Linked DNA regions of Homo sapiens. The protein of the gene in region 2 purifies or fractionates together with the protein of the main gene of each other region. This does not show direct contact. Each region holds a gene or a part of one and is shown on either strand. Other genes may lie near its edges. The genes, in order: CUEDC1, ZNF114, PPP2R1B and PPP2R2C.

Region 1 (7,025 bases), on a different chromosome or scaffold from region 2:
CCACAGGCCTAGCAGCAAGGAAACTCAGCTGAGAACAGGGGCCTCCTCCACCTTGTGCCCTTCTCCACTTGGAGTCTTCATGGCTAGAGGGGTCCAGGTGCACCTCTGAGGTTCTCCCTCCACTGCTTTCCTGGGTGGCTCCGAGGTGTGGTTAAATTGGGGGTGGGCACCCATGTCCCAGATGAAGACCCTGAGACCTCAAGAACTGGTAATACCCCTGGCGAGGGTCCCTCCCTGCTGTAGCCTGGGGTGGTCTGCGAGTCCCTTAGAGATGAGGCTTCCTCTCTCCCCATCTCTGGCCTTTGGAGAAAAATGAAGCCTCCAACAGTGACAGAAGGTGGCAGTGATGTAGAAAAAAATTTGGCCTAGGAATGGGAGTCCCGGGTTGTGATGCAAGCTGCTCTCCAGACCATTCCCTCTCCCCCTGTGTCTGTGCAGGGAGAGGGTGGACGAGGCGTGCTGGGGTTCCCTTGGCTCCAGTCTGCAAGAGCTGAGCTCCCACCAGGCACTTAGCAGCTGGTTATCCCTTCTGCTGCCGCCCCCGCCCCTTCCCCTCGCCCCCGCCGCCGGCCACCCGCCCGAAATAGAAAAGGAAAGGAAGTTATTTCCATAGTCAGCGGCAGCCCGGAAAAGCTCCCCTCCAGTGAGGGGGCGGGCGGGATTCCTAGAGCTGAAGACCAAATCAAAGCCAGGCCCGAGAGCTAGAGCAGCCCCCACCGCCCGGCCCTCGGCTGCCTTCTCAGTGTGCCGTTTTCCTGATTCAGCGGAACACGTGTCCTGCGGTTGCCACGCTGCAGGCTGCCATGGAGCTGTGGGGACCTCCTGGCCGGGCTCCGAGCTGCCCTCAGGCCCAGGGCGGTAGGGCGGGAGCCTGGGGGTCAGGGAGGGTGTGTGCCACCCCCTCTTCCTCTACTGCCTTGCCCAGCTGTTGGCTCTGCCATGGCACAGAGCTCCTGCCACACACACAACGGGCCTGGAAAGAGCGGCCCCAGAGCACCCTGAGAGCGAGATCCCTTCCACACTCACATCTCCACGCACGTTTTCAGAACATTGCTCAGGACACGGCCTCCTGAGGGGCTCCCCAGCACCTGGGCAGGGAGGCAGCAGTTTCTAGATAAGGAAACCGAGCCCTAGAGGGAACAGGGGCCCACCTAAGACTACCCTGCCGGCTGGTGGTTGAGCCAGAACTGGAGCTCAGATCTGCTTTACCCTCTGTAGGGATCCTGGCGTCCCCATATGCCCCTTCCTCAGCAAACCAGCATGCAGCAGGCTGTGCTGTTGGTGGCTTATGTGTCTGTTCCTTTGGACCATACCTGTCACTCAGCACCATGAGCCTGGCACTGTGTAGGTGCTAGGATAGAAGCATGAAAGGATGCGATCCCTGCTGTCTTTAGGGGACATTTGTAAACATCTATGGCTAAATCCACAGAGTTCCACATGTGCACCGTGGACAGACAGCTCTGTAGGTCCAGAGACCTGGAAGGGCACTGAGTGACTGGAGAGCATGAATGGCTGGGGAGTTCGCTGAGGCTGGTGGAGACATCTCCAGTGATGAGACAGAGTGACGGGCCTTTGTTCTGGAGGCAGTGGAGGCCATGGGAATCTCTGAGCAGGATCCGACCTGCCTGAGGACCTGGTGTGATGGGGCCAGGAGACCTGGGGTTGGGCTTAATGACTTCCTCTTCCCTGTCACCTGCCATCCCCTAGTATCGACGCGCTGGGCTCTGGAGCCCCTACAAGCCAGAGACGCTATCGGAACTGGAACCCACCACTGCTGGGCAACCTTCCGGATGACTTTCTCCGCATCCTGCCCCAGCAGCTGGACAGCATACAGGTAACAGGGGCCGCCCCCGCCTTCCACTCCCACCTGCTTGTCCAGCATCTCTCTTTGCCCACACAATTTGTGCCAGCCAGTTTTACTTCCTGATGTTTAAACCCAGGCTGAGCTATTTCTGTTGCCCTGGGTTCGTAGGGCAGGAATGCTGAACTGAAAGCCTCACTTCCTGCCTGGGCCTGGAGGTTTCCTGTTCTATCCAGGGAAGGTGACAGCCTAAGGAGGCTGTCTGCTGCAGCAGTCACCTCAGGCTGGAGAGAGGCGGGCATGGGGTGGCCAATGGTGGAGGGCCAGAGCACCCCCCTTCCTCCCTTGGGAAAGGGCCAGAGGCTGCTTCTTGCTAGATGTTGGCATGCCCCAAGGTGCCCCACAGCGGGGCAGGTCCACCCTGAGGCTGCTGGTGCAGGGAGAGGGTTGAGTTTGGGAATTGACGTATAGGCTGTTCCACAGTCTGCAGATTTGTTTTCAGGACTGTTCAGGTTGTAGATGAAGGTATGAGGTGGTCTGTGGCGTGGGGGAAAAATAGTTTTTAGGCTACTGCTGTGTCCCCTGCAGCAATGGCTCTGACCTGTCCGTTGGATTTTGGCTCGCAACCAGGTTCCATTAGGAGGTGTGAGCCTCAGGTGAGGGCTGGAGGATGTTGGACAGGGCATGTGTGCAACCAGAGGGATGTGGACGTTTGTGCAACATGTACCCTTGTGTGTACACATTCAACATGCTCGCTTCCCTCCTCAGGGTAACGCTGGGGGCCCCAAGCCTGGGAGTGGAGAGGGATGTCCACCTGCCATGGCTGGGCCAGGGCCCGGAGACCAGGAGAGCCGCTGGAAGCAGTACCTGGAGGACGAGAGGATCGCGCTTTTCCTGCAGAACGAGGAGTTCATGAAGGAGCTGCAACGGAACCGCGACTTCCTCCTCGCTCTGGAGAGAGGTGGGCAGCGCCTGCAGCCACTTCTCCCTGGCTGAAGAAGGGAGGTGATGCTGGCTTTAGCCTTGGGGCTCAGGAAAACACTGAGCTGGGGGCTGAGGGGGCCAGGTGCTTTCTGTCCTATTGAGGCATGACTCCCACCAAGTTATCCCATGGGAGCCTCAGAATTCTGCCTATGGGGACCTGGGTCACTAGCCCACCCCTTTCTCCCTCGGGACTCAGAGGAAGAAGGATGTGCACTCTTAGGCCTTCTTCCCTTTGCACACCTGCTCTGTGCCAGGCACTGGCCTTGGCACAAGGCAGCAGGGAGAAGAGCACTGCCCCTCCTCACAGAGCCCCAGCCCCAAGGCAGGCGTGATGTGTCTGGAGCTCCGGAAACAGAACGACTGGGTTCATGAAGGCCAGGGCGGGGGAGGCTCTTGAGTGGAAGACTTTAGAGCAGGGGCTCTGGAACTTTGCAGGTATTTGGGTTGTCTCTGGGTTGGAGACCCTGCTCCCTAGCCTGGCTGCCTTTCCCCTGCAGGGTGGGAGTGCGTTTGGGGTAGAGGAGACGAGAGGGCTGTGGAGCTCTGTCCCTGTGACGGCCACAGCGTGAGAGCTTGTGTGTGTAACTGATGGTGTGTTGGTGGGGGAGGAGCAAGTTGTGGAGGGAGAAGGCTGGGCTGAGGCCCAAGGTTAGCCCCAGCTCTGCAGCAAAGGTGCTAGAAGCCTCAAGGCTTTTCCGTTTATTTTTTATTTTTTGAGACATAGTCTCGCTCTTGTCACCCAGGCTGAAGTGCAGTGGCTCAATCTCGGCTCACTGCAACCTCCGCCTCCCAGGTTCAAGTGTTTCTCCTGCCTCAGTTTTTCAAGTAGCTGGGATTATAGGCGCACGCCACCGCACCTGGCTGATTTTTGTATTTTTAGTAGAGACGGGGTTTCACCATGTTGGCCAGGCTGGTCTCGAACTCCTGACCTCAGGTGATCTGCCTGCCTTAGCCTTCCAGTGTGCTGGAATTACAGGCATGAGCCACCATCCCTGGCCGTGCCTTTCTTTTTAAATGAGGGGGTTTGGACTCTACAGTCTCTCTGAGTCCTTTTAATTCTGACATTTGAGATGGCTGTCAGGCGGTAGTTTCTTTTACTGCTGGTTCTTTGAGAGCTGGTAGATGTGTGCACTCATATTTTGGGTGCCCGTGTGTGCTCATGTGTGATTCTGGGGACTTAGCCTCTAGCAAACTACCGTGTCCCAGCCCAGCCTGCCCCTGGGAGCCCAGGAGCTAACCTCCCTGACCTGTGAATGTGGTCCTTTTCCAGATCGATTGAAATACGAATCCCAGAAATCTAAATCCAGCAGCGTGGCTGTCGGAAACGACTTTGGCTTTTCCTCTCCTGTCCCAGGTAACTTTGCCTTCTGGGGAAGAAAACCTAGAGGCATAGTGGGGAGCTCACACCCAACTTTGCTTTGCATATTTGGAGTTTGAGAGGAGGGTGAAAAAACAGATTGTGGGAGGGGGCCTGGGCCTCCTCAGCAGGCTGGCGGGGCTGCTTCTGCCCCCATCTCCATATCCAGTCCATTTAGCAGCTCTGGGGTCTTTCCAATCCAGCCACTGCTGGGCTTCAGAGCCCACAGTTGTGTTCAAGTAACATAGGCTGGCTGAACTCTCAACCTATGCCTCGAGTGTAGGCTAGTCAATGACACATGGCCAGGTGCGGTGGCTCACGCCTATAATCCCAACACTTTGAGAGGCCGAGGAGAGTGGATTGCTTCAGCCCAAGAGTTCAAGACCAGCCTGGGCAACAAAATGAGACCCCCCTATCTCTACCAAAAAAGTACTAAAAATTAGCTGGGCATATTGGCCTGTGCTTCTAGTCCCAGCTACTCAGGAGGCTGAGGTGGGAGGATCACTTGAGCCCAGGAGGTTGAGGCTGCAGTGAGCTGTGATTATGCCACTGCACTCCAGCTTGAGTGACAGAGTGAGACCCTGTCTCCAAAAAAAAAAAAAAGAAGAAAAGGACCCCAAAATGCCCCGTGGTGGGGCTCAGAGACTCATAAGTCTTGGTCTGTGTCCTGGGGAAGCTTATGGTCTTGTAAGGAGAAATGCCCAGAAAACAGGTAGAACAAACTAGCAAAGCTGAGGACTTACTGATTTTAGCAAATGCATGGGAAAAAAGGAGGGCAGGATTAATCTGGGGAGTTTACTCATTCATTCATGACATAGCTGGAGAATATCTGCCATCTGTTGGGCCTTGCCCTAGGTGTTGGAGGAAGAGGAATTTCTAGCTTTGTGTACAAGGTGGTGGGAAGTAAGAATTGCCTGTAAAGAGGGCCAGGCCCTTCTGCTCAGAAGCTCTGATGGCTGAAAGAGGGTTGGATAGGGGTGAGGGGGCTGCAGTGCTCCTGGGATGCGCAGACTACTGGGTTGAGCCACAGCTGGGAACGATGACCTGGTGCCTGTGTGCGAACAGTGGCCCCTCATCAGTCAGTGCCCCCTGCCCCACATGTACACAAGCTGCCCACCTCGGAGAAGGGCTCTTGCCTGGAATAGACCTTGCATCATGCAGTGGAGTTGGGGGTGGAGGAGCAGAGGGATGGGGAGCTGAGCTGATCCCAGCTTGAAGGGAGAAAATCCTGTGGAACTGACTCATAAGCAGCAGGCTGGGAGCTTAGGGCTCAGCAGATGTGCAGCTGGGAGTTTTAAGCAGGAGCCTCTTGTCCTTGATCCTGAATTAACTAGAGATACCGGGGCTGCTGAGATGGATCAGAATGACTCAAAGGGGACTTAGCAGGCAAGGTGACTGGGGATTAACCAAGTTGCAGGACAGAGAGCAGGGGCTTCAGAAACCAGCAAAAAACCCAAGTGGATGCTGAGCGAGCCCGGGAGACTCTGGGTGGCCGGTGGGGTTCTGACTCCAGGACTAGTCCCATTCTATTCCTACTCATTGTCTAATAGCCAGAAACCCTGTGGCTGGGAGGGAGCAATGGATGGGCTTACCTGGCAGGAAGGACAAGGGACTTGCTACAGGTGAATGCCGGCTCTGAGCCAGCACCTCATTTGACTGTCACATGAATGTCGGGGTGCAGGAGGCCCCTGGTGTGCTGGTGAATGTTTCACAGCCAACTCTGGGTGCAGCGGGAGCCTGATATGTAGTGCTTGGTGACCTCCATGGTGGAAATACTCCCAAGCTACCAAGGTGATGTCATGAAACATGGAGTTGGTCAGAGGCGTGGACAGTTGGGAGCACACACGAGCTGGCTGTCTGCACACACAGTAGACCGCTGAACCCTCCCCATTTTTACAGAGGAGGAAACAAAGTCCACAAGGGGAAAGAGGAGCTCCTGGAACTCCACATCCTCCTTGCTTTAAACTCCCTTCTGGCCAGGGAAGAAGCCTGCTCTTTCTTTGCATTTGTCCTCAGATGGGTGGGTAGGGCTGGGACAGCGGCCATGGCTGGCCACGGTGGCCGGCCTTCAGCAGGTGTCTCCTTCCAGGAACTGGCGACGCCAACCCCGCTGTGTCTGAAGATGCCTTATTCAGGGACAAGCTGAAACACATGGGAAAGTGTGAGTCCCACTCAGGCCCCGCTTCCCTCCCCAGCTTTTCTGAGACAGGCCCTGTGGCCTCCCAGGAGTGAGGGAGCCCCTCAGCACATGTAATGCAGCTGACTCTTGGTGAACCAGTGACATTTTCATCGCAGGCTGGCTCCCTCAGCCTTCCTGCCTCACTTCCCTCTACAGCTGAGTCTAGATACAAATTAAGTTTTAAATCCTCTTGAGCCAGATGTCTGCAGAAAAATAACGTGCCACACATGCCCTCACCGCAATCCTCATGTTCACGTTCTCTGTGGCTCGAGGAGGCTTGGCCGGAGCTGACTGCACAGAGAGGCCCTTGCTAAGCCTCTGTGGGGGTGGGGGACCTCTTTCCACAAAGTCCTACCAGCCTTGAATGCCCCCTTCCCTCCCCCTCACCTCCCCGCCACACAGACCCACAGCCATGTGTGAATGAGGCTGCGATCCTTTCAGGCTCCATTTCAAGGAAAATCTCGGATTAGTCATGGAAATCCCAGAACCAACTTTGGAGGTGGCTAGGGGAGGGGCGGGAAGGCGGTGGCGGCGGGAAAGCGAGCCAAGATGCGTTGCAGTGTGTTGCAGCTGGGGAGGGAATACTTGGATCTTGAGCCGCCTGCGGTCCCTGGGCCTGGCTCAGGGTGTCCTGTGCTGCCCCTGCAGGCTGACCCAGGATGTAGCCTCTTGCTCCTGGGGTGGCGTCCTCAGGGGTCTGCGAT
Region 2 (7,025 bases):
AAGGAGCTGAAAGTGTCTTTGGTGGGGTGCAGTGGCTCAAGCCTGTAATTCCAGGACTTTGGGAGGGTGAGACAGGAGAATCATTTGAGGCCAGGAGTTCAAAACCAGCCTGGGCAATGTAGCAAGACCACCGTCTCTATAAATATAAAACAAATTTGCCTGGTGTGGTGGTGCACGGCTGTCGTCCCAGCTACTTAAGAGGCTGAGGTGAGAGAATCGCTTGAGCCCAGGAGGTTGAGGCCACAATGAGGAGTGATCACTCCACTGCATTCCAGCCTGGGTGACAGAGTAAGACTGTCTCTAAAAATAATAATAAAGTAAAATAAAAAGAAAGTGTTTTTGTCTTAAGGAACTCAGGGTCTCACAGGGGACACTAGGCGTTTATGGAGCGGGCAGTGGCAGCATCTCCCGCAACTGTCATGACCTGCAGATGACAAGCAGTGGACTGAGACGTGCCCCACTCCAAATTTTTTTTTTTTTTTTTTTTTTGAGACGGAGTTTCACTCTTGTTGCCCAGGCTGGAGTGCAATGGCATGATCTCGGCTCACTGCAACCTCCGCCTTCCAGGTTCAAGTGATTCTCCTGCCTCAGCATCCCGAGTAGCTGGGATTACAGGCACCTGCCAGCACGCCCGGCTAATTTTTGTATTTTTAGTTGAGATGGGGTTTCTCCATGTTGGCCAGGCTGGTCTCGAACTCCTGACCTTAGGTGATCCGCCCACCTCGGCCTCCCAAAGTGCTGGGATTACAGGCACGAGCCACCATGCCCGGCCAGGGTTTAAGGAGTAGCCACCCCTCTGTGATAGTTTGTTATAACAGCCTGAACAGGCTAATGCATGAGAAAGACACACAGTTGGTCAACTGGTAGAGATTGAAGTCCGGTCGCGTGACTCAGGTACTCTTTTTCCTGAGACAGGGCCACAGGTGATGGTGTGTGCTGGCTGTCCCAGCTACTTGGGAGGCTGAGGTGGGAGGATCGCTTGAGCCCAGCAGTTCGAAGCTGCCGTGAGCTGCATTTGCACCACTGCACTCCAGCCTGGGTGACAGAGCAAGACCCTGTCTCAGAAGAAAGAGCACCTGAGTCATACGACCGGACGTCAGTCTCTACCAATCGACTGTACCTCTTCCTGTTGCATTAGGCTGTTCAGGCTGATGAAACTATCACAGATGGGGTGGCTTAAACAACAGACATTGATTTTCTCACAGTTCTGCAGGCTGGAAGTCCGAGATCAAAATAGCGGCAGAGTTGCTTCCTTCTGGAGGCTCCAAAAAAGAATTTGTTCCATGCTCTTACCTAGCTGCTGGTAGTCACTGGCGTCCTTGGCATTCCCTGGCTTGTGGACCCATCACTCCAGTCTCTGCCTCCCTCACCAAATGACATTCTTCCCTCTGTTTCCCTCCCTCTGTCCACATTTCCCCTTCTTTTTTTTTTTTTTTTTTTAATTTATATTTTGTTTGTTTTTTTGAGACAGGGTCTTGCTCTGTTGCCCAGGCTGGACTGCAGTGGGAGGATCATAGCTTATTGCAACCTCCACCTCCCAGGCTCAGGCAATCCTCCCTCCTCAGCCTCCCGGGTAGCTGAGACTACAGGCACCCGCCCACACTCACGGGTAATTTTTTTATTTTTTGTAGACGGGTTGTCACTGTGTTGCCCAAGCTGGTCTTGAACTCCTGGCCTCAAGCGATCGTCCCACCTCAACCTCCCAAAGTGCTGGGATTACAGGCATACGCCACTGCAGCTGGCCAGATTTCCTCTTCTTATAAGGACACCAGTCACTGGATTAGGGCCCACCCAACCCCCAGTACAACCTCATCTTTTTTTTTTTTTTTTTTTTTTGAGACAGTCTCACTTTGTAGCCCAGGCTGGAGTGCAGTGGTGTGATCTCGGCTCACTGCAACCTCCACCTCCCAGGTTCAAGCAGTTCTCTGCCTCAGCCTCCTGAGTAGCTGGGACTAAAGGCACCCGCCACCACCATGCCCAGCTAATTTTTTGTATTTTTAGTAGAGACGGGGTTTCACCATGCTGGCCAGGCTGGTCTCGAACTCCTGACCTTGTGATCCACCTGCCTCAGCCTCCCAAAGTGCTGGGATTACAGGTGTGAGCCACCGCGCCCGGCCACAACCTCATCTTAATTCATTGACATCTGCAAAGACTCTAGTTCACAAATCAGGTCACCTTTGCAGGTACCAAGGGTTAAGACCTCAACCTACCTTTTTCTGTGGAGAAAGGGGTCACAGTTCAAACTGATAACAGGACACCCCTCCGAGCCAAACTGCATGTGTTATTTTAGGACTCGGTGACCTTCGCAGACGTGGCTGTGAACTTCACCAAAGAGGAGTGGACCCTGCTGGACCCAGCTCAGAGGAATCTCTACAGAGACGTGATGCTGGAAAATTCTAGGAACTTGGCATTCATAGGTAAGGAGGCCCCCTTCCTGCACTTAGTCCGTGATGGGACCAGTGCTGGTTTGGAACCGTGTTCTGGGAAGTGCATTGGAAAATGGGAACTGGGTTAAATTCCAGAGACACAGCTGCTGCCCCCCAGGTAGTAGGTGTAGGGTTCACCATGAAACTGGAAGTCAGTTTGTTGCATTACTTTATTTATTTTATTTTATATTTTATTTTATTTTATTTTATTTTATTTATTTTTTGAGACAGGGTCTCACTCTATCTCCCAGGCTGGAGTGCAGCGGCATCATCTCAGCTCACTGCAACTTCCACCCCCCAGGTTCATGCAATTCTTCTGCCTTAGCCTCCCTAGTAGCTGGGAATACAGGTGCACACCACCACACCTGGCTAATTTTTGTTTGTATTTTTAGTAGAGGCAGATTTCACCACGTTGGCTAGGCTTGTCTTGAACTCCTGACCTCAAGTGATCCTCCCACCTCGGCCTCCGGAAGTGCTGGGATTACAGGCGTGAGCCACCACACCCAGCCTTTATTTTTCTTTTCATTAAGATGGGGTCTCACCCTGTCACCCAGGCTGGAGTGAAGTGGCACCATCTCGGCTCACTGCAACTTCCGCCTCCTGGGCTCAAGCAATTCTCCTGCCTCAGCCTCCTGAGTATCTGGGATTACAGGCATGCTCTACCACCCCCAGCTAATGCATTACATTTTTATTCTCTTCGTGATTGAACAGAATTTGGGGGATCCTTATGTAGGTGAACATGGTGCACAGGAAAAGGGTCGTTTTGAGCCCTTTTGGCAGAGTTTTAGTGCATTGATGAGAAAAGTAGAGGGACCACTGTTGCACTTCTATTCACACATCATCAGCTTCAGAACCCCAGCAAACCAAAGCCTGTGTCCATTTGACAGAAAGTCTCGGCACAGTTCCTTTATACCACATGCTTGCCCAGTGAGCAGGATTTCAACTAGGCAAACCCAGTCTGCCCTCTCATTTGGAGCAAGAAGTGGTCTGAAAACAGTGCAGGGCAGTTTTGTCCAGGCATTTATGCATCTCAGTACCAGGTAGATGTGAACATTACAGGACCAACAGGTTTGTAAGCCAGCAGCATGGTAACAGAGCAACAGGCTCGCCACTGAGACAGCAGGGTTTGCAACAGAGAAAAGAGAAAGTTGCATGATTACATGGTGCCAACCGAGGAGATGGGAGGAGACGCTCAAATTCTTCTCCCTGGGGGGTTCTGGGGTTTTTGTTTTTTTTTTGTTTTTGAGACTGTGTTTCACTCTTGTTGCCCAGGCTGGAGTGCAGTGGCGCGATCTCGGCTCACTGCAACCTCCACCTCCCGGGTTCAAGCAATTCTTCTGCCTCAGCCTCCCGAGTAGCTGGGATTATAGACATGCACCACCATACCTGGCTAATTTTTGTATTTTTAGTAGAGACGGGGTTTCACTGTGTTGGCCAGGCTTGTCTCAAACTCCTGACCTCAAGTGCTCCGCCCACCTCGGCCTCCCAAAGTGTTGGCATTACAGGCATGAGCCACTGCTCTCATTTTTAAGGGGATCATGGAGGATAAGGGACTGGAGAATTGGAGACGTTGATTGGTCAGAGGAAGGGGGATGAAATCATCGGGATGAGGAAAGTACATTCTTTGGTGCGTCAGTTTCTCACGGCATTCCTCAGATCAGTGAGCATAGTCATTTCATCAGAATGCAGGACCTGAAGGAATATCTCAAAGAGAAAACTTAATGTTTTATAATTTTCAAGTTGTTATCTACAGAGCAGCTAAGGAGACCTATAGGCCAGGCACAGTGGCTCACACCTGTAATCCTAGCACTTTGGGAGGCTGAGGCAGGAGGAGGATTACTTGAGGCCAGGAAGTCGAGACCAGCCCAGCCAACATGGCAAAACACTGTTCTTTTTGTCTTTAAAAACAATTTTTTTTTAATTAAAAGGAAAAAAAAAGAAAGAAAAAAACAGGCACTCTGTTGCCCAGGCTGGAGTGCAGTGGCTCAGTCTCAGCTCACTGCAATCTCTGCCTGCCGGATTCAAGTGATTCTCCTGCCTCAGCCCCCTGAGTAGCTGGGATTACAGGCACACGCCACCATGCCCAGCTAATTTTTCTATTTTTAGTAGAGACGGGGCTTCACCACATTGGCCAGGCTGGTCTCAAACGCCTGACCTCTGGTGATCCACCCACTTCAGCCTCTCAAAGTGCTGGGATTACAGGCGTGAGCCACTGTGCCTGTCCAAGCTTATGTTTTTTGACTTTTATCCATCCTCTCATATTTTCATTTTTCCCTGCTAAAGGCCTGTTCCTTTTCTCCTTAAAATTGCACATGGAGCCAGCTACTCGGGAGACTGAGGCAAGAGGATCACTTGATCCCAAGAGCTCAAGGCTGCAGTGTGCTGTGATCACACCTATGAATAGCCAGCCACTGCACTCCAGCACCTGGGCAACCTAGTGACACCCTCATCTCAAAAAAATAAAAATTTCACATGGACTCTCTGTCCAATTCTCTTCCACTTAGAATTCCTGATCGTTTCCTTGATCTCTGCAGAACTGTTCCTCAGTAACATGACACTCTCCATGTTGAACCCCTGACCTTACCGTCATCACATTCCTGACACTGCAGAATCTCTGATGTCTTTCTCTGCTTCCTTCCTCTTGCTTTCTTCCCCTTCACATTTTTATCATACATGTTGAGTGAACATTTAGAAAGAAATCCACACAGAGGCCTGGCGCGTTGGCTCATGCCTGTAATCCCAGCACTTTGGGAGGCTGAGGCAGGTGGATCACATGAGGCCAGGAATTCAAGACCAGCCTGGCCAACATGGTGAAACCCCATCTCAACTGAAAACACAAAAATTAGCCAGGCATGGTGGCACGCACCTGTAATCTCAGCTACTCAGGAAGCTGAGGCCAGAGAATTGCTTGAACCTGGGAGGCGGAGGTTGTAATGAGCCAAGATCATGCCACTGCACTCCAGCCTGGGCCACAGAGTAAGACTCTGTCTAAAGAAAAGAGAGAAAGACAGAGAGAACGAGAGAGAGAGAGAGGAAAGAAGGAAGGAAGGAAGGAGGAAGGAAGGAAGGGAAAGAAAGAGAAAAGAAAGAAAGGAAGGAAGGAAGGAAGAAAGAAAGGATGGAAGGAGCGAGGGAGGGAGGGAAAGAAAGAAAGAAAGAAAGAGAGAAATCCACACGGAGATTGCCTATGTCATCATCTCTAACCCACCTTTACTTTCAACAAAGAATTTAACTTTTGTGCCACTGTATTTCAGATTGGGCAACTCCATGTAAAACCAAAGACGCAACCCCTCAGCCGGATATTCTTCCTAAAAGAACATTTCCTGAAGCCAACAGAGTGTGTCTCACGAGCATCAGTTCCCAGCACTCCACATTAAGAGAAGACTGGAGATGCCCCAAAACAGAGGAACCACACAGGCAGGGGGTGAATAATGTGAAGCCACCTGCAGTTGCCCCTGAGAAAGATGAATCTCCTGTTAGCATTTGTGAAGATCATGAAATGAGGAACCACTCTAAACCTACCTGCAGGCTTGTGCCTTCACAGGGAGATTCCATAAGACAATGTATCCTAACACGTGACTCAAGTATTTTCAAGTATAATCCTGTCTTAAACGATAGTCAAAAAACACATGAAAACAACGAAGACGATGGAGTCTTGGGGTGGAACATTCAGTGGGTTCCGTGTGGGAGAAAAACAGAGCTGAAATCAAGCACATGGACTGGCAGTCAGAACACTGTGCATCATATACGTGATGAAATTGATACGGGGGCCAACAGGCACCAGCGGAATCCATTTGGAAAAGCTTTCCGTGAAGACGGATCCCTTAGGGCACACAACACTCATGGTCGAGAGAAAATGTATGATTTTACTCAGTGCGAGAACACCTCCAGAAATAACTCAATTCACGCCATGCAGATGCAGTTGTATACCGCAGAGACAAACAAGAAGGATTGTCAAACTGGGGCAACCTCTGCCAACGCTCCAAATTCCGGTTCACACAAGAGTCATTGCACTGGAGAGAAAACCCATAAATGCCCCGAATGTGGGAGAGCCTTTTTTTATCAGTCATTCCTTATGAGACATATGAAAATTCACACTGGAGAGAAACCGTATGAATGTGGGAAATGTGGGAAAGCCTTTAGATATTCCTTACACCTTAATAAACATTTAAGAAAGCATGTTGTGCAGAAGAAGCCCTACGAATGTGAAGAATGTGGGAAAGTCATTCGGGAGTCCTCAAAATATACACATATAAGGAGCCACACTGGAGAGAAACCCTATAAATGTAAGACATGTGGAAAAGACTTTGCAAAGTCGTCAGGACTTAAAAAACATCTTAAGACTCACAAAGATGAGAAGCCCTGTGAATGAAAGGAAGGTGGAAAATTTTTCATTAATTTTCTGACTGTACCAAACATGTGAGGAGGACATATTGGAAGGGAGCTCAAGGGGTTAGCATGAGTGAGAACATCTTCCCTGAACTCTCGTATCTTACAGAAATGTGAAAAAAAACCCTGTGAAGGTAAAGTCTACAGAAAGCCTTTCATCTTCATTCATCTTGAGTAGACATTTGTTCTCACCCTGGAGAGAAACTGCGA
Region 3 (7,025 bases), on a different chromosome or scaffold from region 2:
TGAGGCAGGAGAATTGCTTGAACCCAGGAGGCGGAGGTTGTAGTGAGCTGACATTGCACCACTGTACTCCAGCCTGGGCGACAGAGAGAGATTCCGTCTCGACAACAACAACAACAACAACAACAAACTGGAAAATAAAAGTTAATTAAAACTGAAGGAAAATTCTCAACCTGAAATGAAAAAGAAATCTTGGCTGACGTAATCTAAGTGTATGCCAAAATTTGTTCATTATGATCTTTTAGTACAAAGCAATTTTGGGCCAGGTGCGGTGGCTCATGCCTGTAATCCCAGCACTTTGGGAGGCTGAGGCGGACGGATCATCTGAGTCAGGAGTTAAGAGACCAGCCTGGCCAACATGGTGAAACCCTGTCTCTACTAAAAATACAAAATTAGCTGGGCATGTGCTGCATATCTGTAATCCCAGCTACTTGAGAGGCTGAGGCAGGAGAATCACTTGAACCCGGGAGGTGGAGGTTGCAGTGAGCTGAGATTGTGCCACTGTACTCCAGCCTGGGCAATAGAGTGAGACTCCATCTCAAAAAAAAAAAGCTATTTTGTCTTATTCAATCACTATTTTCAAAGCACTGACACATTATATTACCTCTCTTTTTTTAAAATATAGAATCACCAGTCAGGAACTTCTTAGAGTTCAAAGAAGCAAGACTGTAAATGTGTAGACCCCAGAAGGGAGGCACTAGGAAAGTGTGTCACAGCATTCTCCATGTGGTGTGGAAGCCCCGGGGTTAGAGGACTGTGTAAATCTGCTCCCGGAGCCCATCCCCAGCCTGCACTGAAGTGGCCACCTGTTGACAGTCGGGAGGAACAGGGCTGGGAGAGCAAGCCATGCCTGGGCCATATGCCCTGTAGTCCTGGGCCTGCTTTATTCTCCCTCCAGGGCTTTCTCCTGTTGTCTCGAAAATACTCTCTTTAACTGGGGATATCTCTATGTCTTGAGGTCAGTTGCTTTATCCTTAAGGATTTGTCATAATAGTAACCAAAAAGGGAAGACGATTGAGAATTAGTAATATTACTGACAGGTGTTTTCCTGGGTAATTCATTTTTACAGGTAATCCAGATTTGCTTGGCAGACCATACACAGTGCATTCTTCCTGCTCTTTTGCAGTGTTGTGGCTGACTTCTGGCCACCCTGTTCTCTTTTACCTAGCAGGGCCTATGCCAGCTCACGTATGCTTTTTTTTTGTTTATGATTTCCGTCCAATAAATAGATTTATGGTTTGTTTGTAATTCCTGTGGTGTTTCTATCTCTTATTTGTTTATTTGGAAACAAGTTTTTTTAGCCTTCAGGTAACCTTGGTGTAATGTAAATAGACCATCTTTATTTCTGAATTTTGGCAATGTATGTTAATGGAATCTTCTGTATCTGTAGGGTGTGGAATTCTTTGATGAAAAGCTGAATTCTTTATGTATGGCTTGGCTCGTGGACCATGGTGAGTAGATAAAAACAGATTATTGAAAGCCCATATATCCATGATTTTCATACATTTCCTTTTAGAAAGGAATCTCAGTCTGACCAGATATTTTGCCTTAATATTGTAGGAATGAAGAAAGGCTCTAATTAAAGTTTAATCTTCTGAATATAAATTTGACGTTTCTACCAATTTTTTGTATCTTCGATTTTATTTTCTCCATTAAACAATTTATTTGCATTATTTTCTTACTCAATCTATTACATTATCTTCAGACCATCTCTTTTATATATCTACTTACTCCTCCCTTATCTGAAGATCCTCTTTTTGACCATCCTGTAATTGGTGTCTTCAGCAGCTATACACTAGGTTGTATGGAGATTGGAATCAGATGAAAGGCCTGGGTGGGAGAAATGGCTACTTGGCTTTTTGAGGTGACATAGAAGAGGAGATCTACAGTGAGACAGTAGAGGATTCTTAGGTGTGGGAAACACTAGCTTTGCCATAGGGAGAGAGAGGGCCTGGATTTCTGGTTTGGGTGAAAGGAAGGCTTACTGCTTGTACTCTCACTGCTGCTGCTACAGTGCTAGGAGAGGGTGAGCTCAGGGCAGGTCAGATAGGACAGCAGGAATGAGCAAGTGACTTCCTGGTGAGGCTTCAGGTAGAGGTATATGTGTGTATCCCCTTGTGTGCCAGGCAGCAGTGGGTGACAGATGTACCGTCTCTGCCAGATCCCAGGTCCAGACTTGACAGCTTCAGTGTTGTCTTAGACCTGTTTCGATGAGTGTGAGTGCCCCTATGGGGTCATGTGACATTGTCCTTGAGCTTTGTTTCCATGTTTTGGTGGATATAATAGATAACCTGAGTCAGTTCCACAGTATCTTTTATATACTTGATATATGTATTTAGTGTATCTCTTTGTTCATCTATGGGTGCTTATGCCTGGAAATTTGGGAGGAATGAGGATATTTGTGTCTGCTTATACGTGTGGGTGGTTTTGTTAAAGGCATGTTTGCATCATATGGAGGATCATATGGTTAAGAGTGTGAAGAGGAAGGATGTGAAAAAATATGTGAAAATGTATAAGGGCTTATATATGTGGGTATTTCCAGTGTTTTCAAACTGGATTGTAGACTTCTTTCTCTTTTTCTTCTCTAAAGTTATCTTATTGTGGCCTATTTATTTCTTTTTAAATAAAATTAAAATTTGGCAAATCATAGGAAAGAAATACCACTTTTAAAAAAAATGTTTATGTTATATCTGATAAATATTTGACGTTACTGGGAATGGTGCATCCTAGCAAATCATTCTGTGCTTTTTTAAATTTTATTTTACTTTAAGTTCTAGGATACATGCATAGAACATGCAAGTTTGTTATGTTACATAGATATACATGTGCCATGGTGGTTTGCCGCATCTATCAACCTGTCGTCTAGGTTTTAAGCCCCACATGCATTAGGTATTTGTTCTAATGCTCTCCCTCCCCTCGCCCCTCACCCCCTGATAGGCCTCAGTGTGTGATGTTCCCTTCCCTGTATTCATGTGTTCTGATTGTTCAACTCCCACTTATTAGTGAGAACATGTACTGTTTGGTTTTCTGTTCCCGCGTTAATTTGCTGAGAATGATGGCTTCTAGCTTCATCCATGTCCCTGCAAAGGACATGAACTCATTCCTTTTTTATGGCCGCATAGTATTCCGTGGTGTATATGTGCCACATTTTCTTTATCCAGTCTGTCATTGATGGGCATTTGGGTTGGCCTCAAGTCATTCTATGCTTTCTTTAAAAGTTGGCATTTTAGATTAAGATGGTGTTTTATTTTGAGGAATTTTTAAAGTTCTAATATTCCACAAAGAATTAAATTCCTGGCACCCTTTCTCTGTAAGATTGTCTTCTCTATGCAACTTGATTACTCCTTCCTCTTTTCGGATTTTCTCTTTCAGTTTGGGAGCAGGAGAAACCCTTGTTTATTTCACTGCAGCAGCATGCTGAAGTGGGGACTGCAAGAGTTCCATGAACCAATGAAATAACAGCTCTGAAATTGTTTTGTACTTAATCACAGGAGCTTTTTTGCTTTTGCATTTCAGATAAGTGTTATATAATGATCACTGGATCAGTTAGAGTTTTTGAAACTTTTCCCCTAGTTAGGTAACTACTAAAAGAACATTGTGAAAATTCCAGAGAAGTATAAGGAAGAAAGTATCACTCACCTATATTCCTGTGGTTGAGTAGACAGTTTTGATCAGAGGGAGGAATGTAGAAGGGAAATTTATTTATTTATTATAGGAGAAAGGAGAAGGTATCAGTTATTGAGCATAGATAGACATTCAAAGAAACCTTGCAGGTCAGCCAGGCCTTGAGAGGAGATGGGGAGAGAGAAAGAGACAGAAATAGACAAAAGAAAACAGGCAGAACTCTGGAATGGTTTGCATTCTTCTGAAAACAGTCAGAGGAACCAAGAACATAGTAGGCATCTGGCCAAGTAGAGTTCAGTGCAGTTAAGGTCTTGGTCAAGGCTATGCATGTGTGTTCCCCAGTCTCTGGTTTTTCTGGCAGTAGAGATCCCTTCCTATGGTAATGGCATTATGATAAAAATCTAAAGCGTGTTAAAAAAAATAGTAATTTGCTGAGCATGGTGGCTCATGCCTGTAATCCCAGCACTTTGGGAGGCTGAGGCGGGTGGATGACTTGAAGTTAGGAGTTCGAGACCAGCCTGGCCAACATGGTGAAACCCTGTCTCTACTAAAAACACAAAAATTAGCTGGATGTGTTGGCGGGCGCCTGTAATCCCAGCTACTCAGGAGGCTGAGGCAGGAGAGTTGCTTGAACCCAGGAGGCGGAGGTTGCAGTGAGCCGAGATCTCGCCACTGCACTCCAGCCTGAGAGACAGAGTGAGGCTCTGTCTCAAAAAAAAAAAAAAAAAAAAAATTAGAGGAGAAGACACAAATACTCTAGCTAGCTCCTCTTTAGTGGGGAGGACAGGGAAGGGTTTGGGCCAAAGACAAAGACTATGGATATGAAGGGAAGGAATCTGTATTACAGTAAAACAGTTGACTTGAGTTTGCTCCTTAGTGCATCTGAGTCTTACCGAAAGGTTGCTTCTCCTGTAGACTGTCAGTTTAAGTGTTGATAATCAGTTGTATGGGTCACTTGTCTATGCTGTCTTGCTTGTTCTCAACATCATTGCCCAGAAGGATCTATGAATAGAAGAAGTTGCCTATTTCTTGGTTGGAGGCTTGTATAAATTGCCTAGGACTGGGACTGTGGCTTGGATAGCTATTCCTGCCCTTCCTATCATCCCAGGAAGGTTGGGCCCACCTGGGGAGAGAAGTAGAATAAGGAATTAGTACCTACCACCCTCGATTTGTTAATCTGAGCCCAAATTTTGAGTCTTACTGGATCTGTAAAGTGAAGTGACACCAGGCTTGTTTTTGTTCAGTGCTGTATATAGCAACTAATTGTGAGAGGATTGTAGCTGAGACCTTTATTATCTAGCTTTATGTCTTTGATAAATGATCAAAGGATATAGGGAATTATTAGATGTTAAGGCAGGCACATTGATTCAAAGACATTTGACATCTTGTTTCAACCTAAGCATTTTCATGGAGAGGAAGCAAGTCAGTCTGATGTTTGTATTTGCTGTTGTATAGATGACCACAGTGGCCTCTACACCATTTCCTTGTTGTCTTTCTCAGTCAACGTCGCTTCTCCGTGATGTTGCTGGAATAATCTTGCTAAAATTCCACATTGGTCATCAGGTCACAAGTTTGCTTTAAAAACCCATCACTGTTTTTCCTAATCAAATCTAAGTCTTTCATAATGCTCTGCAGTCTGGGTCCACCCTAATTGTCTAACTTAGAAGTCTCACAGGTTTCAGTTTTTTCTGTTTGTGTCCTGGATACATGTCTTTACCCTTTCTAGGAATTCCTCCCCGCTTCTCTCCACTTACACAGATCCTCCCAAATCTTCACTGCCCAGTCAAGGCTTCTTTCTGTGCCGAAGCCTTCCTAGACCTTCCCTGTTCACTCTTCTCTGCACTGCTACAACCCTCACAGCCTTTACTACACAATGCCACACTTCATTCTAATTGCTCTTACACCATGTGACTTCATGGAGTGTGTTAGCTTTCATTTCTCTGATAAGAGCATATTTCTTGTGAGGGAAAGTATCTTCTGTGTTCTTTTTGTAGCACATAGTAGGCACTTGTATTTGTTAAATAATTGATGATGCATATGGTGAGCTCCTTGCATCCCTTTTCTGTGGATATGCACACTTGGAAACTGAGTTGGAGCTGAGCATGCTTGTCATTGCAGCATGATTACATGTGGAGTCTGATTGCAGAGGGGTTTTGCTTTTGGTCCACATTTGATTTTCATGTAAGTAAACTAGGTTATGCTTAAAAAACAATAAGCGATATGAGAACATGTTTTTGACCTCTTCTGCAGTATACGCCATCCGAGAAGCTGCCACCAACAACCTCATGAAACTAGTTCAGAAGTTTGGTACAGAGTGGGCCCAAAATACTATTGTTCCCAAAGTGTTAGTAATGGCAAATGATCCTAATTACTTGCATAGAATGACCACTTTATTCTGCATTAATGTAAGTATAACATAACTGTTATTGCTAAGCTTAATCATTAAAGCAAAATTATTCATGACTATTTCTGAATTATCAGTATACTGTCTTCTATTTGGAATATATGTCTTGTATTGATTAATTGGAATAGACAGGAGATGAGAGAAAATGTCAATTTTAAAATTCATGTTAAAATCTACAGTATTGGCTGGGCACAGTGGCTCATGCCTGTAATCCCAGCACTTTGGGAGGCTGAGGCGGGCAGATCACCTGAGGTCAGGAGTTTGAGACTAGCCTGGTCAACATGGCAAGACCTTGTCTCTACTAAAAATACAAAAATTAGCCGGGCATGGTGGTGCATGCCTGTAGTCCCAGCTACTTGGGAGGCTGAGGCAGGAGACTCCCTTGAACCTTGGGCAGGGGGCAGAGGGTGCAGAGGTTGCAGTGAGCTGAGATCGCGCCACTACACTCCAGCTTGGGCGACAAGGCAAAACTCCGCCTGAAAAAAAAAAAAACAAAGAACAAAACTACAGTATTTTAAAAGTTCAACTTATTTGTGAATTCTGGTCTAATTCTCTGATCATTTGAATGATTCTTGTGTCCCCCACTCAGCTGCTCAAACTAGAAATATTTTCCTATTGGTCAATTATTTTCTTATTAAATATTAATTTGTTTCATTAGATTTTGGAATTTTTTAAAGTATTTTAAATGTGCCATCTTACTTATTTTTCTAGGCACTGTCTGAGGCCTGTGGTCAGGAAATAACTACTAAGCAAATGCTGCCCATCGTATTAAAAATGGCAGGAGACCAAGTAGCAAATGTTCGCTTCAATGTGGCCAAATCTCTACAAAAGATTGGACCAATTCTAGATACCAAGTAAGATTTTAGTGTTTAGTCTTGTTTTAAAAGTGTACTTTAAATTTTACCTTATAGTGGGGAGTAATTAGCTAAAATTAAGTTCAGGGATTTTCACTTTACTTAAGATCTGGGTTTGCTTAAAGAAAATAATTTAGCAACTATTT
Region 4 (7,025 bases), on a different chromosome or scaffold from region 2:
CAAACCACCCAACCATAAGAGACATTTCTCAGACAACTGGGGACGTTCATAAAATGGACCAGAATTTAGGTAACAAAGAATCAGGATATGTTTTGTGAGGTGGGATAACAGCACTGGGCTACAAGAAATGCCCTCAACACTCAGAGATGCCTGCAGATGGAACGGGGAAATGACAGGAGTCTTGGATTTGCCTAAAAATTCTTCATCCAAAAGCAGGGGAGAGTAAATGAAGGAAGTACAGCAAGATCTTGATAGATTGGAAGCAGTTCAATAGACTATTTTCTCACAAATGCAAAGAAGTTTCTCCTCTTGTAACAGTTGGCCAGCAGTCCCTTCCACAGAGTGATGAGGGGCTCCAGGGAGCGGCATCTCTCCCTTCTCTGGGACAGAGGGAGGGGGGAAGGTGCACTCCCTTCTTAAACACTTTGGCCCAGAAGTGGCACAAATTTGAAAGTTTGCATCAAAACTTTTTTGAAATTGTAAAAAAACATTCAGAAGCTAATCATGATCATGAAAGAGCTCCCTTTTATTGAGATTAACCTACAGAGTGTGCACTATTTCATTCAATTCTGCCTGAAAGCCTTGCTGGTTGGGAGCTCGCTCTCTCTCTGCTTCATAGATGGGGAAATTGCCCAGGGGATGAAGAAGCTGCCAAGGGCACGGCAGCTGTGCCAGACCCAGAGCACAGGCCTGGGAGCCCAAGCCCAGGTCCAGCCTCCAGCAGCAACAGTCCTGGTCCTGAGGAGGGGTGGGGGTGGGGCTGCAGGAGGCCAGGCCAGCCTGGAGGAGGCCCTTGGCCTGCAGTTGGAGATCCCATCCCTGCTTGCGGCAGCCCACACCCCAGCTGGGAACCTCTGAGCAGCCTTTGTTCTGCCTCAATGGGACATTCAGCCCTGGGTTCTGGAGGACAATGGCCCCCACTGTGCAAGGAGGGCAGTGCCTGTCCTGGGCAGCACAGGGGCCCCCAGGTGTGTCCTGCTCCCGGGCCGGCTGGCAACTAACTAACTGCCTCCTGGTCTCAAGCAGAGGAGCTGGACACTGTCAGGGGACAAGTGTTATGCCACTTTGCACACACCGTTCCTCCTGCCCAGAATGCGCTAGAATACCATGTCCCAGCACATCATCACCCCCCAACCTGGAAATGCCACCTGCCCTTCAGTCCCTGGACCACGTGTCCAATTGTGGCCTCTGCCACTGCCATCTACCTGTGCCGTGAAGGGGGTCTCTCCTCCTGCTGAACCCTCTCGATTGCCTTTCATCGCAACACAGATAGCAAGAGCACCAAGCCAGGTAGTCTAGTTCAAATCCCAAAATCTCCTAAGTGTGGTGCATAATCAGAACTGAACAGGCCACCTAACCCTGCCCTGTGGGTCCCAGCCAATTAATGTAGCAGTCAGGAGCGTGGGTTTGGCAGGCTGCATTCAAAACTCAGCTCTGTCCCTTACAAACTATGTGACATTGAACAAGCACCTCAGCCTCAGTTTTCTCCTCTGTAAAATGGGGAAATAATATACACAACATCAGGTCTGGGGCATCTCCAATGAGATGCACGCAGCCTCATGTCCAGCATATAGTATTATAGTACATAGCCAATAAATGGTGAATCATAATAATGGCTATTGTGTTTGTTTTGTAATTATTTCATCCTAAAGTCCACTTGGATCATTCTGCTCAAGGGCTTAATGGTGAGATGCCTGTCTTTGCAAGGCCCTGTGTAACTAACAGGACTCCCCAGGGTGCTGAGGGATGTACAGACTCCTCCAGCAGCTTCAGACTCTCTCCTGAGAAGTAGCTAGGTCCCGCAGTGGCACCCAAGACACTGGGAGAGGAGAGTCCACATTTCAAGGCAGACACAGCCTTGCTCTTCAACTTTGTATGTCTAGAATCTAATGTCACCCTGGCACATAACAGGGATCAGCCAATACCCGCTGAACAAAAGGAAAAAATGTTCAACCTCATTGGTATGCAGACGTGAATTACAATAAATATTTTTCATCTTTGATATTTGCAAAGGTCAAACAAATTAGACTACCTAATGTTGATCAGCATGTGGTTAAAGAGAAAAACTTTCTGGAGAATAATCTGCCAATGTGTGTCAACAACATTAAAAATGCTAGTGATCTTTATATGAAATAGCACGTGTGGAATTCCTTCTGAAGAGCATCATCCCAAGGTTAAGGGGGAACGATGGGAGTAGGGGGTCTTCACACACACAAATGGTGTTCATTCCTGCAGTGTTAGTTATGAAAATAAGAAAGTGTGTGGGGGAGAGACAGAGAGAGAGAGAAGGAAGGAAGGGAGGAAGGGAGGGAGGGAGGGAAGGGAGGGAACTAAATATCCAGCCATAAGGAAATGATTAATTGAACTACTGAATGATGACACATGTATCACAGGAATAGTATGCAGCCAATGAAATGATGGTTGTCAATACGTGTACTGTGTGACTTGGGGGCGGGGCCAAGGTAACCAGTCACCCCTCTTCCTTGCTGGGACTTGGGATTACACAGAAAAGACTGGCCGCAAGACAGGAATAAAAAAATCTGCTTTATTAATGGTAAACCTGTAGGAAAAAAAAGAGCTATGGACCCCTACTTCACCTCCCCACCCCTTGGTCCTGCGGGGAGAGGTAGGTCTAACTTCTAGCTTGTAAAATAAGATAACTGTTGGCCTCTCCCCTGTAGAGCAACCTGGAAGTCAGAGGCCCATGGACCCAATGGGTGAGAGAGGAGCACGGACATTTAATATTGTAACCCCTCCCCATAGGGAAGAGCTGCCCAATGGATGGCAGGCTCTCACCATTTCCACCAATCACGAAAGCCAAGGAGGTAGAAGGCAGGGCCAAGGAGTTCACCCTACCCAGAGTTCCAGCAGAGCAGGGCCAACCCTATAATTCGTGGGGCACAGGGAAAAATGAAAATGCAGAGCCTCTTATTCAAAAAGCAAAGGAAAAGCATCATTAAAGGTGCTAAGATACAAAACCTTTTCATGCCTTCCATATTTTGTCATGGTGTTATTTGCTATTTAATGTCAATTCAAATTTAAAAAAAAAAAAGCTTAAACTCTTAGCGTGCATTTTATCACTCACCATTCTAGTGTGCACCTCCAATTTTAAATGCAAACATAAGAGCACGTAACTGGAATGTAGACTCACCAAAATGCACAAGTTATATTTCGCATATGGATTTTGTTCTTACCAGAGCAGAGGAAACTAACTTAACTGTTCTTATTTCATTTCTGGATATGTGTACATTCTTCCAACACCCTCTACCCTTGGTTCAATAATAAACAAGGAAGGACTAGGAGGAAAAGGAACTATAGGTGCCCTCTTTTTCCCTTCCCTTCTGTGTAATCATTTTCAGTGTCAGCGATTGGCAAATATGGGCACGTAACACACGTTAAGAAAGGACACCATAGGGTTCCTGCGTCATTCATGTTTCTTAGAAGTCACTGCATGAGAACATCAATGCCTTGGAGCATTATTTGAAAGCATGGCCCCTGCCTGTGAAACTACAGACGCACTGAGAAGGTGCATGAGCTGTCCACTGTGCATGGGGCTCAGACGCTCAAGTGAACACAGGGTAGCGTGCTGTGGGAGCCAATATGTGTAACCACAGACTCGCCTGCCACACGTACCCCTCTGCTCATTCCCAGGCTCCCCCGTCCCATCAGATTTCGCTTACAAAACACAGGATCCAAAGTGAAATTCTTAAAAATTTCAAGATAGTAACAGCAGAACATGAACCCAAGCACAGGTCCTTCTGAGTGTGGGGACCTAGATGACCACACAGGTTGCATATCCATGAAGCCAGCCCTGGAGCAAAGCCCTGGAAAATTCCTATAATCTCATGCCAAACTAGAAAAGTAGCCTTCAAAATTGTTGATACAGACAGATTACAGTTTTCATTAAAAACAGACATGGGCATTAAAAAAAGACTGGAAGGAAATACCCCAGTTGCTGAGAGTATGTCCCTCTGCTTGGTGGACTCACAGGAGTTCACTCTCCTTCTCTTACTCCCCATCACACTCTCCATGGAGCCTAGCGCTTCATACAGCGGCTCTTCCAGTCTCAAGGCCTAAACACTTCTTACCAAACATCCCTTAGCTCTGCAAGCTTTAAGGATAAACACTAAAAAGTGTAGCAAATGACAACAGTCAGGAGATGGAGTGGAAAAATTTTATTAGAATTTGATTTTCATCTTCCAGAAAGAAAATGAGAAAAACCGTGCTCTGTGACTGCGCCAAGCTTTAAGTTCGGGTTGATTAAAAAGAAAGGAGCACATTGCTTACAGCAGGGGCGTGGGAGTTGGCCTACACTACAATTTGGGGAAATTGACAGCAGTCGCCTTTTACACGTGTAGAACTTCAGAGTCCACATGCCCTTGGCTCCTTACAGCCTCATGACAACCCAGGGCACCAGGCAGTGCAGGGAAACTGAGGCTCAGAAAGTGATGTGATTTGATGGAGGGCACCCCAGCACTGAAATGGAGCCCACACTCGCTGTGAAGCCCAAGGGAAGCTTATGTAAGTGGCGTTTCCAAACAGAAGCGAAAGGAACACAGAATCTGAACAGTCCACATCTTGATTTTCAAAAGTCAAAGGCTGACTCTCCCTAATCTCCCTCTGTGCCACCACTAATGTCCCCCCTCTTAGCCTCAGTTTCCCCATAGGTTGGGGTGGAAGTTAGGCTAGCCAGTCTGATGACAGTTCTAAGGGCTAGTCTAACTCTGGCCCCTAAAGAATAGACATCATCACTTACTGATCTATTAAGAATAAACTGAGGCTCAGAGAGACCGTGTGACCTGCCCAATATTACAGACCCAGGGTCAGACCCCACCAGGAACCCAGATCTCCCGATGCCAGATCTCAGGCTCTCTTATCTGACCAAAAATACCTCCTCAATAGGACTGAGGAGGGAAAACCAGAAATTGGCAACCTTGACTTGAGTGAAATGAAAGAGGGTTCTCAAAACAGAAAGCAAACAAAAATCCCTCTGGGTTTTATGTATCTCGAGTCTTAGCTGTGGGTTACAGATCAGCCTCCTGGTTTTCTTGATAAGCAGTCAGGGCTGTACGAGTTGGGGTGCTATGGGCTGCAAGTAACGGAGACTTGAAAGTGCACAACGAAAAGGAAAAGTAACAGCTCATGTAACTGGAAGTTCAGAGGCGGCCTGGACATCAGGCCTCTATGTCCTGGATCTCACTCACTCTCTGCCCTGCCATCAACGGTGGTGGCCTAAGACTTGCTCCCCTCATGGTGTCAGATGGCTGCCAGCCACCACAAGGTTTCCCTGTTCCCATCACAAGAGAGGGACCAACTACCTGTGGTTCTCCCTACTTTCCACTCAACCTCCAGAACTGACTCCCACATCCATTCTGGAACCAGTCACTGCAAGGGGAATGAGATCATCCTTGCACTGATCACATCCAGCTATGGCCTGAGATCTCTTACTAGGAACCATATGTGTTCTCCTTGGAAGAAGAGAGACTAACTGTTGTGGAGATCAGCTGCAACGTCCACCATAAGGGTGCAGATTTCACTGAATGCTGAGTCTCCCACAAGCAGCATCCCCTCTTCAGTGTGGTTTCCTGGGCAGAAAGTAGATGGTATCCAGGGCACAACCAGTTCAAAACCTGCAGACAATTCCATGCAGGAAAACCTGCCTGCCTGCTGCGTTCAGACAGCCTCAGGACCCCATGATGACCTTAGCAATTCCCAAGCATCCTTCACTTCCTCAACTATAAAATCAGGACAACTCTGTGGGAATAAACAGACTACTCTGAAATCACACAGGACATCCAGGGATGGGAGTTAGGAAAACATGGGTACATCCTTTATGCAGATGCAAAAAGCATGAGTGTCCAACAGTGTGTGATGGCTGAGATGCTCAAACAAGGGGAAGCTGTGCCTCTGGCCTCAGCTGAAAAGTGTGCTCCGGAAGTGCCTTACCTGTCAGGCACATGAGAGTGACTGTTGCTCCCCAGAAAGACCCAGTCACTGCCAGGATCTACCTGGTCAGCCTGAACCACCTCCCCTTGGCTGAGCTCCTGTGTCTTGGTCATCACTGCTGCCCAGGGCAGGATGTGCTTGGCAAATGGTGCTAAGCAAAGGAAGGATGGATGGGTTTTGTAAGTTCAGTCTAGTCTGGAAGTGCTTATTCAACTCACTCTAAAGCTAAGTACTGAGGCCTGCCGCAAAAAGAGAAAGAACAGAGCCAGGAAGAGTCCTTCCTGGAACCATATCCAGCTCTTGAGAAATGTCTAACTAGATGGAGACTTCCTAGCACCCTCCAGGGTCCAGGGCCCAGGGCCCAGTGCCCTATCAGCTGCACTGCTCTCCCCACACCCTGACCCCATTCATGCAAAGTTCTCTGTGCCCCCAGGTGGCCTGCAGGTACACCTAATCATCACCATAACCCTCAATGCAGTTGAGCCCAGCCAAGAGTAAGCCACCCAGCCCTGCCACCAAAAAAAAAAAAAAAAAAAAAAAAAAAAATCCAACCTGCTCTGACGAATTCACACCAAGATGTGAATGACTAACAAAACCTAAACTCTTCCTAAGATGTTTGAGATTTTACAAGAGACTCAGGAACCCAAGCAGGGCTCCCACGGGCAAAGATGACATTGGACATGGGGCCCAAAGGATGAGAAAGAGTCAGTGGTGAGAAAGGCAGGAGGTGGGTATTCCAGGCAACAGCCATTGCAAACGCCCTGAAGCAAGAAAGAAAATGGCCTGCTCAAGGAACAGGAGGTAGATCAGAGCAGCTGGGGTGTGGTGGGGGAGTGTAGACTCAACCACAGGTAGAACAGGAGTTTGTGCACCTGGTTCTTCCGCAAACTGAATTTTAGCATCCACTGTTTGCCCACAGGCTCTTCCAGTTACAAGGCATATAAATAATAACAATGCCATGTGTTCAATGCCTCCAACAACCCAAGCACTGTGCTGGGCACTTTTGATATTAGCAAAATCACTGATCATCCCAGCAACCCTGTATGAAAGGTCGTTATTATTTCTCCCTTTACAAAGGG

What was found.
Region 1: the proteins of ZNF114 (region 2) and CUEDC1 purify together in Homo sapiens (affinity purification with mass spectrometry; 4 studies listed by BioGRID and IntAct, with this or other methods). This does not show direct contact.
Region 3: the proteins of ZNF114 (region 2) and PPP2R1B purify together in Homo sapiens (affinity purification with mass spectrometry; 3 studies listed by BioGRID and IntAct, with this or other methods). This does not show direct contact.
Region 4: the proteins of ZNF114 (region 2) and PPP2R2C purify together in Homo sapiens (affinity purification with mass spectrometry; 3 studies listed by BioGRID and IntAct, with this or other methods). This does not show direct contact.

What each region holds. Positions count from the first base shown.
Region 1 is NC_000017.11:57,868,400-57,875,424, reverse strand, and holds part of CUEDC1 (CUE domain-containing protein 1), read left to right. Parts: intron 1-1,707; coding exon 1,708-1,834; intron 1,835-2,569; coding exon 2,570-2,762; intron 2,763-4,055; coding exon 4,056-4,139; intron 4,140-6,231; coding exon 6,232-6,303; intron 6,304-7,025.
Region 2 is NC_000019.10:48,280,081-48,287,105, forward strand, and holds part of ZNF114 (zinc finger protein 114), read left to right. Parts: intron 1-1,471; coding exon of another isoform or gene 1,472-1,609; intron 1,610-2,290; coding exon 2,291-2,417; intron 2,418-5,680; coding exon 5,681-6,798; 3' UTR 6,799-7,025. UniProt on the Homo sapiens protein: May be involved in transcriptional regulation.
Region 3 is NC_000011.10:111,742,377-111,749,401, reverse strand, and holds part of PPP2R1B (serine/threonine-protein phosphatase 2A 65 kDa regulatory subunit A beta isoform), read left to right. Parts: intron 1-1,387; coding exon 1,388-1,448; intron 1,449-5,871; coding exon 5,872-6,026; intron 6,027-6,736; coding exon 6,737-6,879; intron 6,880-7,025. UniProt on the Homo sapiens protein: The PR65 subunit of protein phosphatase 2A serves as a scaffolding molecule to coordinate the assembly of the catalytic subunit and a variable regulatory B subunit.
Region 4 is NC_000004.12:6,462,615-6,469,639, forward strand, and holds part of PPP2R2C (protein phosphatase 2, regulatory subunit B, gamma), read right to left. Parts: intron 1-7,025. UniProt on the Homo sapiens protein: The B regulatory subunit might modulate substrate selectivity and catalytic activity, and might also direct the localization of the catalytic enzyme to a particular subcellular compartment.